Homo sapiens: one gene and its partners. The protein of the gene in region 2 interacts with the protein of the main gene of each other region in a pairwise test. Each region holds a gene or a part of one and is shown on either strand. Other genes may lie near its edges.

Evidence for each region.
Region 1: the proteins of UBE2K (region 2) and MAPDA interact in binary tests that used the Homo sapiens proteins (3 or more experiments, as listed by UniProt).
Region 3: the proteins of UBE2K (region 2) and TRIM43 interact in binary tests that used the Homo sapiens proteins (3 or more experiments, as listed by UniProt).

The regions. Positions count from the first base shown.
Region 1 is NC_000015.10:43,337,097-43,340,753, reverse strand, and holds part of MAPDA (N6-Methyl-AMP deaminase), read right to left. Parts: intron 490-3,657; coding exon 402-489; intron 1-401. UniProt on the Homo sapiens protein: Catalyzes the hydrolysis of the free cytosolic methylated adenosine nucleotide N(6)-methyl-AMP (N6-mAMP) to produce inositol monophosphate (IMP) and methylamine.
Region 2 is NC_000004.12:39,704,636-39,708,292, reverse strand, and holds part of UBE2K (ubiquitin-conjugating enzyme E2 K), read right to left. Parts: intron 1-3,657. UniProt on the Homo sapiens protein: Accepts ubiquitin from the E1 complex and catalyzes its covalent attachment to other proteins. In vitro, in the presence or in the absence of BRCA1-BARD1 E3 ubiquitin-protein ligase complex, catalyzes the synthesis of 'Lys-48'-linked polyubiquitin chains.
Region 3 is NC_000002.12:95,595,001-95,597,796, reverse strand, and holds part of TRIM43 (tripartite motif-containing protein 43), read right to left. Parts: intron 2,748-2,796; coding exon 2,652-2,747; intron 1,596-2,651; coding exon 1,365-1,595; intron 469-1,364; coding exon 446-468; intron 1-445.

The DNA of each region.
Region 1 (3,657 bases), on a different chromosome or scaffold from region 2:
AGATAATGCCTGACTGGAATTTTACTACTTTTTACTTAAGAATAACTCACTCATTAATAATGTACATCAGGATGGGCACGGTGGCTCACACCTGTAATCCCAGCACTTTTAGAGGCTGAGGTGATTGTTGGGCCCAGGAGTTTGTGGTTACAGTGAGCTATGTTTGCACCACTGCACTCCAGCCTGGGCAAGACAGCAAGACCCTGTCTCTAAAACAAACAAAATGAACATCATTAATGTACATCAGAGAGAGGACTTGGACTGTTGACTAAAGGTTCAATGAAATACAGAACAACACAATAGTATAAAAGTTAGTGCTTCATATTCCCACTCACAAACATGTGAGTGATCAAAGCACATAGGAAAAGGACAGTACATTTGCTGAGAAGTATAAATTCTACCAGTAGCATTTTCTCTTCTGGGTGTGCTCCTTAGTTCCAGGTACTTGACGCCGTCATCTGCAAATTCTTTTATGACATCTTTTGTGACCTGATAATAAAGATAACGTACACAATATTGATAATGTTTGGGTAAGGGTCCCAATGAATGTGCCAAGTGCTACAGCTTTATTTTATTCATTAAATCTGATTTGCAAGTAATGTTGGAAGTTTCTCACGTGGTAGAGATTATCCACTTTGTCACATCCCTGATGGAGACTATGCAGGGCTGCAATATTTCCAATCACTCCCATCACCCCTCATTCCCACATTCAATCCCAATCTGCACATCAGCTACACCCTTTGCTTCTTTTCCCCCTTTTAAACATTTATTTCCTAGTATTTATAATAGCAGATTGATAAAATAGAGAAATGGTGCAAAACTAAAACCAGCTGGAACCATCTGTATGTGTAGACTGCTAGGAAATGCACATACAGAAATAAACAGCTAAAATGATTAGGTATTACTGATGTGCTATTTGAAGTCATGGCTTAAGGTTTTTATTCAAGTTATTTAGGAATAAGTTACATTTTTCAATAAATTCTGGCAGGGTTAAATTTTCTCGAGAAGTACTTAGGGCAAAGAAAGTAGGTGATAAATATGAGTAAAACTGTATCCAATTTAGTGCAAATCTCAATAATCCAAAAGTTCCTGAAGGATTTCCTGAAGGATGTTTTTCCTTTCTGCCTTCAATCCTAAAAAATCTAGAAGAAAAAAAGGCTAGGTTGGCGAAGCTGTGACAAACTGCCGTAATTAGTCCTTACAGTTGGTATCCTAATCTTAATCTGCTTTGACTACACACACACAAGCATGTGAGTGCAGTGTCCTGGCAAAGCAAGAGGGGCTGGCTGTTCATACATACAGTGCCTAACAGTATGGCACTACCTTGGTGAATTCATAGCAATCCAAGTTGTAGGCCTCTTCTTTTTTCTTTTTCCACTAAAGACAAAAATGAACTTATTATAATGTAAGTGGAATGGGTAGCTCAGTTTCATCAAGAGGTCTAAAGACCCAGATTCTGAGAATACACAGCCAAAGATAATACATCTGCATTCTAAATCACATGAAACTCCAGGACCAAGCAAGATACCACTGCTGCCTCCTCCAAGGAGCATGATACTGCAGCCTCCATGCCATCATGAATGGCATTGGCCCCACGGCACTGCTACTCCAGGAACTCCCTCTTGCTGTCACTGACACCATGAAATTGTGGCCTCACCTTTGTATTAATAGGTTGAGGAATCTGGATCTTGTCACTGCCCCAGAACAGAACAGACCCACACTCAGCTACCCCAGCTCACATGAGACTAATGCAGAAAGCTGTTTGACAACGAGGAATACGGTTGAAGTGAGGGTTTGAAATAGTAGTCCTTTTCAGTGACTACTATCCAAGGCTCCCTCTTTCTGAGTGGCTAGGTACCTGTAAAACCAAATGAACAATGAAAAACTAACAAGTATGGAGCAAGAACAAAGGGAGGAAGATTTATCTAGGCCACAGTGAAGCCTACAGAACCATCCCTAACCCACATCCAAGAACATTTCCCTGGGGTCTACATCTGTGTTTGCCAGATTTAGCCCTTTCTGTGATGTGCAGCAGGTAGTGCGGTAGGTACTGAGAACAGCTCTTTGGGCTTTCCTCTCCTATGCGCTGGACTGAGAATATCTATTCAAATTCTTTTTCCAGACAAAGTACATCACAATTAGTTAAGTTCCTACTTACTCAAACCTCTCTAAGACTGTATAAGCTTGAATGGGAAAGAGCATGAGCTCTGCAACCAGATAGTACTGCCACTTACTCTGTGTGTGTGATCTTAAGCAAGTTACACTTAACCTCTTTAAGCCTATTTTTTCATCTACAAAAAGGGAACAATAAAAATACCTACTTCTGAAAGTAGTCCTAAGAATAATGTCTGGTACATGTAATAACAAGTATCATTTTTTCAGCCACACTCCAATCCTCTCTTTGAGATTATACCCAGGTCACCTTGACTAGAGTTTTAAGTGATCTCCCTCACACTCAGTTCTACATTTACAATCTCTTAGTTTATCCTCATAGACGTTTCATTTATCATATGGGGCACCCCATTGTCACCCTCTGAACCACCTAGTAGCACTAGGTCAAATGCACAGAATCTTCTCACTTCATTTAATAAAGCTTTTCAACTTTCATTTTGAAATGAATGTAGCAACAAGCATGCCATTAATATACCCATAGAGTATTAAACTGTCAAAGTTTCAATTTAATCATTTTGCTCTATAACACTCATCAACAAAGTGAGACCAGGGCCCCTGTGGTGGATATTCTTAGCTATGTTCAATGGTATCTTTTGAGACGCTGCTTAGAGAATGCCCTTTTGGTTCCCTATAAATCCTTATGTGTGTGTCTAATGCAGAGCTTACCACACTATGTTGCAGTATCTGCTTATGGGTCTGTCTCTCCAACCTAATTATAAATTTCTCAGGGGCAGAAACTGTGTCAATCTCTCTCAGACTTTAGCACAGTGCCTGGAACATTGTGGGCACTCAGTCAACTTTTGTTGAATGAAACTATTAGAGTTACCTCTCCTCTAAAAGGTGCTTAATTTACTTACCACTTATCATGAAGATCAGTCTTTACCAAAGAGGAAAATTTTTGCTTGATCAGTCAAAAGTTACCTCTCCAGAAACAGGTTATACTTTCTTTGCATTTTTTTTCTACTGGTTAAGATCACTGACACAATTTTGCTTCTCTCCATTTAGAAAGAGAACATTTTAAAATGCCATCCTAGTCAGATCAATGATACAGAAGACAATCTTCCATGTCAGACTCTAGTATCATGGAGCTTCAGATAAGAGAACACAGTGGTATCCTTTGTGCCCTCAGAGGGAAAGCACAATTTCCCTAGGGATTAATCACTTACTCTCTAAGCTCTTCTTGAACTTCTTCCTTCTCTATAATGTCCACCCATACAGTAAGTCTCCTATGTAATACAGACAATGCCTTATTAAGGATATCCCCATCTGTGGTCTAATACTTCTCTTTTTTTTTTTTTTTTTTTTTGAGACGGAGTCTCGCTCTGTTGCCCAGGCTGGAGTGCGGTGGCGCGATCTCGGCTCTCCGCAAGCTCCACCTCCCGGGTTCACATCATTCTCCTACCTCAGCCTCCCGAGTAGCTGGGACTACAGGCACCCGCCACCATGCCCGGCTAATTTTTTTTTTTTTTGTATTTTTAGTAGAGA
Region 2 (3,657 bases):
AAATGTGCTTCTTGAATAATTGTATCAATAATCTCTTTGTTCCATAGTTCCAATTCATGTGCCTAAAGAAAAGTTCATTTACTTAAGAATCTCGGCCAGGCGCGGTGGCTCACGCCTGCAATCCCAGCACTTCGGGAGGCCAAGGCTGGCAGATCACCTGAGTCCCGGAGTTCGAGACCAGCCTGACTGACCACCATGGAGAAACCCGGTCTCTACTAAAAATACAAAATTAGCTGAGCGTGGTGGTGCATGCCTGTAATCCCAGCTTCTCGGGAGACTGAGGCAGGAGAATCGCTTGAACCCGGGAGGCAGAGGTTGCAATGAGCTGAGATTGTGCCACTGCACTCCAGCCTGGGCAACAAGAGCAAAACTGTCTCAGAAAAAAAAAATTGCAATATTACCAGAATTCCTTTGGGACTGTCTCCTGAAATTTGAGGTCAGTCTTAACTTTCCTCTAGAACTCAGCTCAAGAAGGCTGGGTGAGGTGGCTCATGCCTATAATCCCAGCACTTTGGGAGGCTGAGGCAGGAGGACTGCTTGAAGCCAGGAGTTCAAGACCAACCTGGGCAACACAATGAGACCCCATCTCTACAAAAAATAAAAATTAGCCAGGTGTGGTGGCACACACCTGTAGTCCCAGCTACTCGGGAGGCTGAGGTGGAAGGCCTGCTAGAACCCAGGAGGTCAAGGCTGCAATGAGCTATGATTGTGCCCCTGGGCGACAGAGTGAGACCCCATCTCAAAAAAAAAAAAAAGGCACCTAGCTCAAGAACCTCCCTCATACAGTCATACAGGCCAGGCACGACGGCTCATGCCTGTAATCCCAGCACTTTGAGAAGCCAAGGCAGGCGGATCACCTGAGGTCTGAAGTTCGAGACCAGCCTGGCTAGAAACCCCATCTCTACTAAAAATAGGAAAATTAGCTGGGTATGGTGGCATGCGCCTGTAATCCCAGCTACTGGGTCAAGCAGGAGAACTGCCTGACCTGGGAAGCAGAAGCTGCAGTGAGCCAAGATCATGTCACCGCACTCCAGCCTGGGTGAGAGAGTGAGATTCCATCTCAAACAAAACAAAACAAAAAAACTCCAGGTGGGGTGGCTCACACATGTAAGCCCAGCACTTTGGGAGGCCAAGACAGCCAGATCACCTGAGGTCAGGAGTGTGAGACCAGCCTGGTCAACATGGTGAAATCCAGTCTCTACTAAAAATACAAAAAAAATTAGCCGGGTGTGGTGGCGCATGCCTGTAATTCCAGCCATTCTGGAGGCTGAGGCCTGAGAATCACTTGAAGCCAGGAGGCGGAGGCTGCAGTGAGCCGAGATAAAGCCACTGCACTCCAGGCTGGGTGACAGAGACTCTGACTCAAAACAAAACAAAAACAAAAAAGAACCTCCCTCATTCAAATACCCTCAGAATCCCATAGCATTTACACTTTGCCCCTCCCATTTTTATCTATCCTTTGTCCTGTATCTCCAACCAATTAAGCCTTTTGGGGCTGTGGTCAACATGTTCGGTAACTGTTAATAATGTATTCACTGGGAAATAAGAGTATATAGTCTTGGCTGGGCATTGTGGCTCACACTTGTAATCTTATCACTTTGGGAGACCAGCCTGGCCAACATCATAAAACCCTGTCTCTACTAACAATATAAAAAATTGGCTGGGCGGTGGGGCGCGCCTGTAATCCCAGCTACTTGGTAGGCTGAGGCAGGAGAACCGCTTGACCTGGGAGGTGGTGGCTGCAGTGAGCTTGGATCATGCTACTGGACTCCAGCCAGGGTGACACAGTGAGATTCCATCTGGGAAAAAAAAAAAAAAAAAGTCCAGGCATGCCAGGCATGGTGGCTCACCATTTAAGCCAAGCACTTTGGGAGGCCCAGGCAGGCAGATCATCTGAGGCCGCGAGTTTAAGACCAGCCTGGCCAATACAATGAAACCCTGTCTCTACTAAAACTACAAAAATTAGCTGGGTATTGTGGCCGGACAGGGTGGTTCACACCTGTAATCCCAGCACTTTGGGAGGCCAAGGCAGGCAGATCACGAGGTCAGGAGATCGAGACCATCCTGACTAACACGGTGAAACCCCGTCTCTACTAAAAAAAAAATACAAAAAATTAGCTGGGAGTGGTCGTGGACGCCTGTAGTCCCAGCTACTCAGGAGGCTGAGGCAGGAGAATGGCATGAACCTGAGAGGCGGAGCTTGCAGTGAGCTGAGATAGCGCCACTGCACTCCAGCCTAGGTGACAGAGCGAGACTCCGTCTCAAAAAAGAAAATTAGCTGGGCATGGTGGCGCATGCCTGTAATCCCGGGATCCCAGCCATTCCAGAGGCTGAGGTATTGGTTGAACCTGGGAGGCGGAGGTTGCAGTGAGCTGAGATCGCGCCACTGCACTCCAGCCTGGGTGACAAAGCGAGACTCCGTCTCAAAAAAAAAAATTAGCTGGGCGTGGTGGCGCATGCCTGTAATCCCGGGATCCCAGCCATTCCAGAGGCTGAGGTATTGGTTGAACCTGGGAGGCGGAGGTTGCAGTGAGCTGAGATGGAGCCACTGCACTCCAGGCTGGGTGATAGAGCCGAGACTCTGTCACAAAAACAAAACAAAACAACAACAAAAAGGAATCTCTCTCATGCAGATACCCTTTAGAATCCCATAGCATTTACTCTTTGCCCCCACCATTTTTATCTATCCTTTGTCTGCCCTGTATCTCTAACCAGTTAAGCCTTTTGGGGCTATAGTCAATATTTTCAATAACTGTCAATAATGTATTCACGGGAAATAAGAGTATATAGTCTTGGCTGGGCACGGTGGCTCACGCCTGTAATCCCAGCACTTTGGGAGGCCAAGGCAGTTGGATCACTTGAGGTCAGGGGTTCGAGACCAGCCTGGCCAACATGGTAAAACCCTGTCTCTACTAACAATACAAAATATTAGCTGGGCGTGGTGGGGTGCGCCTGTAATACCAGCTACTCAGGAGGCTGAGGCACGAGAGTCGCTTGAACCCGGGAGGCAGAGGCTGTGGTGAGTTGAGATCGTGCCACCATACTCCAGCCTGGACAACAGAGCAAGACTCTGTCTCCCAAAAAAAAAAAAAAAAAAACCCAGGTGCAGTGGCTCATGCCTGCAATCCCAGCACTTTGGGAGGCCGAGGCGGCAGATCACAAGGTCAGGAGCTCGAGACCAGCCTGGCCAATACGGTAAAAACCCGTCTCTACTAAAAATACAAAAACAAAAACAAAAAAAAACAAAAAAAAACATTAGCCATGCATGCTGGCACATGCCTGTAATCCCAGCTACTCAGGAGGCTGAGACAGGAGAATTGCTTGAACCCGGGAGGCGGAGGTTGCGGTGAGCCGAGATGGCGCATTGCACTCCAGCCTGGGCGACAGAGGGAGACTCCGTCTAAAAAAAAAAAAAAAAAAAAAGGTGTATAGTCTTTAAGAAGGGGTGACAGGCCAAGCATGGTGGCTCACGTCTGTAATCCCAGCACTTCAGGTGGCCAAGGCCGGAGGATCACTTCAGTCCAGGAGTTCGAGACCAGCCTGGGCAACATGGTGAAACCCCGTCTCTACAAAAAATTACATAAATTAGCTGGGCATGGTGGCAGACGCCTTTAGTCCCTGCTACTTGGAAGGCTGAGGTAGGAGGATCATCTAAGC
Region 3 (2,796 bases), on a different chromosome or scaffold from region 2:
CCCACTTCTGATACCGTAATGTACCTCCACAACGCTAGGATGGGTTTGTGGCTCTTAGGGAATCTTTCTAACTATTCACTCCATTTCTAACCTACTGCCCCTGAAAGATAAATGCCTCTCTCCCTATCTGCCACCAAATAGTTTATCTCTAATTATGATTCTGAATCGCAAAAAGAGGCAACTGTATTCTAGCAACCTCTGCATTGCACTCTTCAAAACATAAACCCCTGAGTCACTTGGGAAAGTAAGAAAAGATTAATGTCTGATAAAAGGCATAGATGACATTCATCATACCACATAAACACATGACTACACACACATACACACACAATCACACTGACACATTATGGTGTTAGTAAATTATGTTTTCACTTTGTTGGAAACAGCTTGATGTTTTTCATAGCATGCCTTGTGCTCCAGTTTGCACTGACGGCCAAAAACATACCTTGCCACGATGTCTCCCAAATCCTGTAGAGAGAGAGAGAAAAAAAAAATGACTTCTTTAGAAAGTTGTTATTCTTGTTGGGTGAGGTGGTTCACACCTGTAATCCCAGCACTTTGGGAGGCCAAGGTGGGTGGAACACCTGAGGTCAGGAGTTCCAGACTAGCCTGGACAACATGGCAAATCCCCGTCTCTACTAAAAATACACACACACACACAAATAGTGGGGTGTGGTGGTTCATGCCTTTAGTCCCAGCTACTAGGGAGGCTGAGGCAGGAGAATTGCTTGAACCAAGGAGGCAGAAGTTGCAGTGAGCTGAGATTGGGCCATTGGACTTCAGTCTGGGTGACAGAAGAAGACTCTGTCTCAAAATAAACACACAAAAAAGTTGCTATTCTGCCTATCTGGTCTTTAGGTTTTCAAAACTTTAGAATTACCGTATACTATTACTGCCACTCTTTTAAAATGTATTCTCATCTCTAACAATTATACCAGTAAGACCTATTGACAATATGGATTTCTGATAAATTAAGGACCCTAAATTTGAGTGAGAGAGAAAGGTGTGAGTAGTGACTGCGCATTGCTGCAGCTGTCTACAATGTGGTCTTTTTCAGGGCTAGTCCCCAAAGTGTAATGTGGCTCAAATCAAGCATGAAATTTTTTCTTCCAGAGTTTTAATGAAATGTGCTGGAGGAGGAAGCTTGTGGTAGAAAATGTTGTATGGAAATCTAGTTGCACAATTCCATAAAGCTTTATTTCCATGATTAGCGTAGGAGTTATAGTTTATCTCTATAACCGGTGGGAATGACTCTCACCGTCAGTACAGGAGATGAGGAAATAATGTCTTTGGTACCCAATGGAAGGCAAAGATGTAAAGGTCAGCTAACACAAAGTGTCTCAAGGGGCATCCTCCATTCTTACCTGGAGCAGCTCCACATCTGGTTTATGACACATTTCCATTAGTTCCTGATACATTTCTTTCAAGTGTTTACTCTTTTGATCCATTTTGACCCAACTTCTCTGGAGTTGCTGAAAAATCTCTTGGTATTCCTTGTTCAGTCTCTCTAAATGTTGTTTTTCTTCCTTATGGAGAACCGGATGCAGCTTCCTATACTCATTCCTGATCATCTGTGCCCGTAAAACCACATTGCCCTGTAGGGATATGAATTTTGTAGGTTATATACCCAGGCCTACTTCCACCTCACAGAGCCTACAACTTCATCCTCCTCATTCCTTCTTTTATTTTCCATCCTTTACAAACAGGATGATGAGTTAAGCAAGACCTTCCTTCAAAATTTATGTAATTCATCAATTCCCAAACACCTGCAAAAAAGCCCTTTAGGTTTAAATGTTTAAATCAAATCGGAAATACAATTAGAAAACAACTAAAATTTATGATTGTTACATTGTCATGGATAATACACATAATCTTTGTTATTCACTTAGGTTGTTGTTTCAAATCTCTGTACTTCACAGCCTGAACAATCACTCTTAGTAGAAATGTTTTTAGTATATTATAATCAGGATCAGAAGCCATCACACAAAAAGGATCTTAGTAAAAAATTTAACCCCCATCTCTCAAACTGACTACCTCTTTTCTGTCTCCTATCTTTCTTCTGTCAAATCCATAGACTCTGTATTGCACTGCCATTCTAAGAACATTAATCCCCATTCCATTGTGTTTCTCCTCTCAATAATGACATATTTATCCTCTCACTGCCCCAGTCATTTTTTATCCCTTCTCCTCAGCTTTTCCTCATGTTGCATTTTCTCCTACTCGGACTGGCATCATGTGGGTCCTTTGCTATCAGATTTCACCAGCACAGGCACATTTCTTAAATTACTGTTCCCACCCGATTTCTTCCCCCTGGACAATATCATATTCACCAATAAATGCCTTTATTTCTCAATTATATACTATTTAATCAACATTTCATAATTAATTTTATACAGAAAACTCTGTCTGAAATACTTATTAATTTTAAGCACATACTTGCCCTTCAGAATTTATATTTATTTTTTACTTATCTGAAAAGCATTTACAGAAAACCTGAACAATCGTTATGTTGAACAGTCTGGTTGTTTTCCAGCCTATGAATAAACACATGACAAAATCTGGCATAAGAATTTCAACTCAAGTTGCTAATATAAATGTTGTCAGCATGCCTGTCTCAAGCTGGTCAGGAGGACTCACGGTCTCATACTTACCCTCCAGAGGAAGGCTGTTCTTCCCTCCTCATATAGATTTCTCTGATTTTCTTGAATCTTTTTCCATAAAATCCTCATTTGCTTTAAGAGTTTCTCCTGCAAAAGAATTACAAGGTTGAACAACAGAAAGTCAAATGCCAAAGAT